Regions from separate parts of the Homo sapiens genome. Here region 1 is linked to region 2. Evidence: fine-mapped QTL for protein levels in blood plasma. Region 2 holds a variant in brackets. A gene starts in the other region. All regions are shown on their forward strands. Region 1 holds the start of CD207 (CD207 molecule). Region 2 overlaps CPVL (carboxypeptidase vitellogenic like).

Evidence for each region. PIP is the posterior inclusion probability: the model's chance that the variant is causal. Protein levels are from antibody-based Olink assays in UK Biobank. Linkage for the fine-mapping came from a reference panel and not from the study's own genotypes, which makes the PIPs less certain.
Region 1: CD207 starts here. The variant in region 2 is fine-mapped to the plasma level of the CD207 protein (UK Biobank, PIP above 0.99).

What each region holds. Positions count from the first base shown.
Region 1 is chr2:70,834,455-70,837,365 of GRCh38, forward strand. It overlaps CD207 (CD207 molecule), which reads right to left and starts at 1,362. Exons shown (of 6, transcript NM_015717.5): 1 at 1,250-1,362; 2 at 1,037-1,153. The coding sequence starts at 1,322.
Region 2 is chr7:29,091,492-29,094,402 of GRCh38, forward strand. It overlaps CPVL (carboxypeptidase vitellogenic like), which reads right to left. Exons shown (of 13, transcript NM_031311.5): 6 at 1,132-1,211. Among named protein-coding and RNA genes, the nearest start is that of CPVL-AS1, 13 kb to the left of the region's middle. The variant A/G (reference allele first, on the strand shown) is at 1,172.

The DNA.
Region 1 (2,911 bases), not on the chromosome of region 2:
ATCTGCTAGGACAGCACCACTCCCCCACATCTGTCCATGGGCCCCTCTGTGACCATGGGAAGAACCAGCCACTAATCTGGAAGTGGCTTCTCCAGAGAACATGGAAGAGGAGATTACAAAACTGTTTCTCCCCTTCCCTTGCCCCACCCACTTTCACATTCTGCTCAGGTCCCAGGCCTGGGTACCAGAGAGAGGATCAAAGATAAACCAAGAGGCTCAAAGGCGAGCCCTGAGGAAAATGCGATGTTAGAGGCCAGGGGTCTAGGATGGGGCAAGGGGGACTCTGCTCAGAGCCTACAAGTCTAAGCCCAAATATGTCCCGAGGCCACAGAGGGAGAAAAAAAAACCCAACAGCTTCTTGGGTCCCTTTGCTCTGCTTCCTGGAGCCCTGGCAGGAGGAAGAAGGCTCTGCCAGCAGCAAAGGCCATGAAGCCTGACAGAGCCAGAAAAGGAAGAAAGATAAACCATGCAACATCAAATGAGCAGGAAGCCTCCCTAGATGTGATCTTCACAGGGACAGGAGAATGAAGACAGCACCAACGAGTCCTGGGGAGAGGGGACTGAGTCATGGAGATCTGTTGGCTCGTTGGCCAGGCTCTCCATCTGGTGAGCTGGGGCCAATGATACATGAGGCTCGGTCCTTCACAGGGTCAGGAGACATTGCACTGTCAAGGACTGTCCACAAGGCTCTAGATCCAAGGAGCAGAGCTCAGATTGGTGGGGGGTGGACGGGGAGAAAATAGCACAGGATGTAAAACTAGATCAATGTTTCCTGAGGACAAAAGAATGTATCCTTGAGCACCAATGTGCAAATGCTAATCCCAATAATCTCCCAGAAATTGGGAGGGAAAGAGCATCAGCTCACCGTACTGGGGGCAGCACAGCCTGTTACTGCACATGGAAAGAGGAGGAAGGAGACAAATGAAAAAGCCACAGGCAGGAGAAACCCGGAGAGCAGGGAAGTGGTCTCGATCTGAAGGGAGCCGGCTGGCCACAGAGAGGGGCTAAGCCCAGACGATGAAACATGAGGACTTACAAAGGACGGCCTGCAGCAGGACGGAGGCGACCAGGACCAGCGTCAGGCAGATTAATGCAGCACGGACTGTGGGTGTTTTCCCCGGGACCAGAGATGGACCGGACTTGGGAGGAGGCTCTGTTGGAAGAAGAAGAAAATGTGTGTTGAAGGAGCAGCAAAGGGCAGGTTTGCACACAGAACACGGAGCAGGTTCTCAGCAGCGATGTGGCTTGCCTCGGGGCCAGAGGGAGATGTTCTGTTTGTCCACAGTGAAGTGCGCATCAGGGGCCTCCTTCTCCACAGTCATCCTGAGTGCTCACCCTTATCCTGGGAGCACAGGTGCTTCTGGCTGCCTGTCTCTCCAAGGGCTCTTATCTAGAGGAAACAGGAAGTCAGTCCCACAGCAGGTCACCATATCATCCCAACTTCCCTATTCCTGACTAGATACCTTGTCTGGCTTACTCCCATCCTCAGAAGTCTGAGCTTTCAGGAAGAGGCCATTTGTTGTCTTCTCTGGGGGTCTGTTACATGGATACATTAACCATCTTGTCCCAAACCTATCCCATTTCTCTTGTAAGACTCTCGTCATCCATCCACCCATCCATTCACCCCACAAATACAGGCTGAGTGCCTTCTAGGTACTGATGCTCTACCAGGCATAGGGCCACAGTGATGAATAACTCGCAGTCCTTGCACCAAGCAGCTCATAGTCTGGTAGGAAAGACAGACATGAGCAAATAAATTGCAAGGTGATGAGCACAAGAGACAAATATGCCCAGTTCAAAGAAGCATATGAAATGGAGTAATGGGAAAAAAAAAAATCCAGTAGAAAGATAAGCATATGCCAAAGGATGGAGCATAAGATAGCATGGAGTGCTTGGCAAATTGTAAATAGTTGCAATATTGCTGGAATGTAAAATATACATTCCAACAGGAAGGGGATGCACACGGGGTTGAAGAGGCACCTGGGGTCTGATGATGAAGATCCTTCTGATCATGTCAAGGAGCTGGACCTCTGGCTTGTGGGTGACATGGGGCCAATTAAGGACTTCAGGCAGGAGAGAGACAAGGACAGGGACACTGTAGAAACATCACTCTGATCCTGGTGAGGAGCAGACTGGTGGGGAGAAGCCTGGAAGCAGAGATACCAAATAGGCAACCATTGCAATAGAATATCCTGCTTCCTGTTATTAATGCATCTTGGCTGATACAATATCCCTTTATAATATGCAACTTGGAGATTCAAAGTGTAAACCTAAGACTTGGGTTCTCCTCCCTGCTTCCTGCACCATGTGAGATTTTCAAAAAAAGTAGGGGCGCTCAGCAACCTCAGACTAGGAATCGTTCTGTTTCTCTCTCCTCTCTCTCTGTCCGCACCTCCTCTCTCCTTCTTTGTAGTCCTAAATAGAGAGTTCCATATGTGCAAGAAGCTCAGGGCACAGAAGAGCTGATTTGGGCTCAATGAAGGACTAAATTTTCTCCTGGGCGGCTTCTCATGCTTTGAAGAAGTCTGCCAAATCTGAGAAATTTGGCACATGGCAGACTCTAGACAAATATTTCTTGGAATATAGGAAAGAGGAGAGGAAAGAGGGAGGGAAGGAAAGAAAAAAGAAGGAAATTGGTCCAGATAATTGGAGGATGGGTGAATGGATGAATGGATGGATAGAGGATGCATGGATGGATGTGTGAATGGTAAGTGACTTGGAGACTTGATAGCTGATCATGCCACTCAGACATTTACACAGTCTGGGGCCTGGGATCTGCCTTCTAGAAGCTGCTGCTTTTTTCCACTGTCTCCAGAAGTTCTCATTCATCTTCAATGCAAAAGCATAAGGGGAAGTGTGATTTACTCCTTACCCAGGAATGAACAAAAGCTCTGGCCGCAGGAAAAGAAAG
Region 2 (2,911 bases):
GTGAGGAGGACTGCCGTCCGTTACGTCTGTGGAGGGAAGGGGAGGAGGTGCTGGGGGGAACACCCCGTCAGCATCTTGGCAAATATGTCCCTAGGACCCCACTGTATGTGGAAGCAGAAGTGTGGGGCCCTGGGCATCCCCCTAGAAACTGAATAGAAGTGATCGAATCATGGAACATGTGAAAAACAAACAAAAGTGGAGAAGACAACAGCCATATTCTTTTCTGGGTGGGCAGAGGGAGAGATCTTTGGGAAAGGGGCTTGGAAGTAGTTCTTTCTTCTCTCCCCCCGGCCACCTATCTGCCTCAGAGAGAAAGAAAAGTAAAACGGAAAGCTTTTGTCAGAGATCAGCAAACTCTGACTCCTATTAGATGCACTTTCGCTTTGAGGATTGGTAGTAATTAACAGAGTGCTTGGTGGAGGTGTGGGGTAGGGAGCTAGTTAACTCCTTCTGGCCACTAGGGTTCTTTTAGTAAATTATTATAATACATAAAGCGGTGCCCTAGTGACCAGAAAGAATCTAGGACTTGGTCTCTAGTAATAATTTGTAGACTGGAAAAATCTGACCAAATAAGAAAGGTCACTTGCTTTTTTTTAAAAATGCTAAAAATAGCAATGATTAATATGAGTGAAAAAAGGGAGAAATTATATGGACACTGTTTGGCCAGACTTACAACTTTACATTTTTCCTTTTTTTTTTTTTTTTAAGCAAAACAAAACTTTCATAAGAAGAAGAGAGAATACTAGAGACTAACAAGCTAAGTTTTCAGCCTGGAAAAGTCATGAAATAGAAGCAAAAAGTAAAAAATTGCATCCAAAAGCCACGAAAAGAAGAATCCTGAGAAACAAACAAATATCTGAAAAGATGTTGTCTCCCTGCAAATGCAAAGTTAAATACAAATTTGGAAAACAAGTAGAAACCTTTCAGATGTCTGGTTGAAAGGTTTAAAAAATAATCTTTAATTGAAAAATTCTGCTCTGTGTGTGTGGATGTGAAAATATCCTTAAATTATCTTCAGGAATTGGACTATAAGGCTCAGTCAATAAAAATTCCAACACTAGAATAATTTTCCTATTGAGATAGAAAAATGTTTGGTCTTAGGAAAGCCAAGAGAAAGCAGGAGCATTTTACCTGTATAAATCCCGTGCTACATCGTCCTCATTGACTGCAT[A/G]TCCGTGGGTATCATCAGTAAAACTGAAGCCTGTGCCCACCTGCAGGAGAAATAAACACGCAGGTATAAACACAGAGAAACACATGCCTTAGGGACCTGCAGAGAGGTCCCACACTGGAAGGTGACCTTGTTCCAAAGGCCAAGCTCAGACTTCAGATTTTTGCCGTTGCCCCCCTATGCCTTTAGCCCTCCTCCCAGGAGGATGCTAGGTGCCACCTATTCTCTCCACCCCCTAAAGCCCAAATAAAACAGCAACACAGAGCTTTGCCCTGGGGTCAGTGGCTGAGCTGTCCTGTGCCTCAGTGGAGACCCTGCCAGATGTTGATTTAAGGAAGAAGGATTCATCTTTTCCATCCCCTGCTACAGTATCAAAAGATCCAAAGTTGTCTCCTCTCTGAAACCTGGAGAGTGCATGGCTCTGTCCTGCCAAGAAGAAACTCTTGGTTGGCGCAGTGGCTCACTTCTGTAATCCCAGCACTTTGGGAGGCTGAGGCGGGCGGAACACCTGAGGTCAGGAGTTTGAGACCAGCCTGGCGAAACCCCGTTTCTACTAAAAATACGAAAATTAGCCGGGCATGATGGCGGGCACCTGTAATCCCAGCTACTCAGGAGGCTGAGGCATAAGAATCACCTGAGCCCAGGAGGCGGAGATTGCAGTGAGCTGAGATCATGCCACTGCATTCCAGCCTGGGTGACCAAGCGAGACTCCGTCTCCAAAAAAAAAAAAAAAAAAAAAGAAAGAAACTCTTTAGGCTGAAGAAAAAGGTAGTTGTACATTGTCTTCCTCTTCTTCTTCTTCCTCCTCCTCCTCCCCCTTCTTGTCTTTATTTGCAAGAAATATGGCCATTAAGCCATTTCATCTTCAGTAGGTAAGGAGTTTTAACATAATTAAGACTAATTTTAAACTAATATTTTCTTATTAGAACCTAGAAGTTCACAGACAACTGAACTGCAAATTCAAAAGAAACTGAACTGCAAATTCAAAAGAAGAAGCTACTATTTTTATGTCAACAATTTGCATAAGGAATGCACTCCCTATCTGGTATAAAGATTTTTGTGTTTTTGTTTTCCAAACACCCAAGGATGTTTAATTCATCTTTTACTTAAATACACAGTTATGGATGAGGAAAATGGAAGGCTGACAAAACAAGGTGGGGGAAAGAGCATGTTGACATTTTTTTCCGCTTTTATTTGTGTTCTTTTGGACCATCTGAAAAGTGAGAGAAGTTAAAGATTTTAGTTAAGAGGGCAAAGATACTCCAAATCTGTAGAAGCTGACCCTAAGTTTCTCTCCTATTTTGCACCTTAATAGAACCAATATCAGAAGACCTCCCCAAGGAGAGTATCACTTTTTGTCCAGAGATGAAGCATGTTGCTTGTCTTAACAAGTGAAGGAGGCCAAGAGCAGTAGCTCATGCCTATAATCCCAGCACTTTGGGAGGCTGAGGTGGGCGGATCACTTGAGGTCAGGAGTTCAAGACCAGCCTGGCCAACATGGTGAAATCCCATCTCTACTAAAAATACAAAAGTTAGCCAGGCATGGTGGCGCAAGTCTGTAATCCCAGCTATTCAGGAGGCTGAGGCAGGAGAATTGCTTCAACCTGGGAAGTGGAGGTTGCAGTGAGCTGAGATGGTGCAACTGCACTCCAGTCTGGGTGACAGAGTGAGATTCATCTCAAAAAAATAAAAATTAAAAAAAAAAAGTGGAGACCCATTTTGACTTTTTATATCTATAACTCT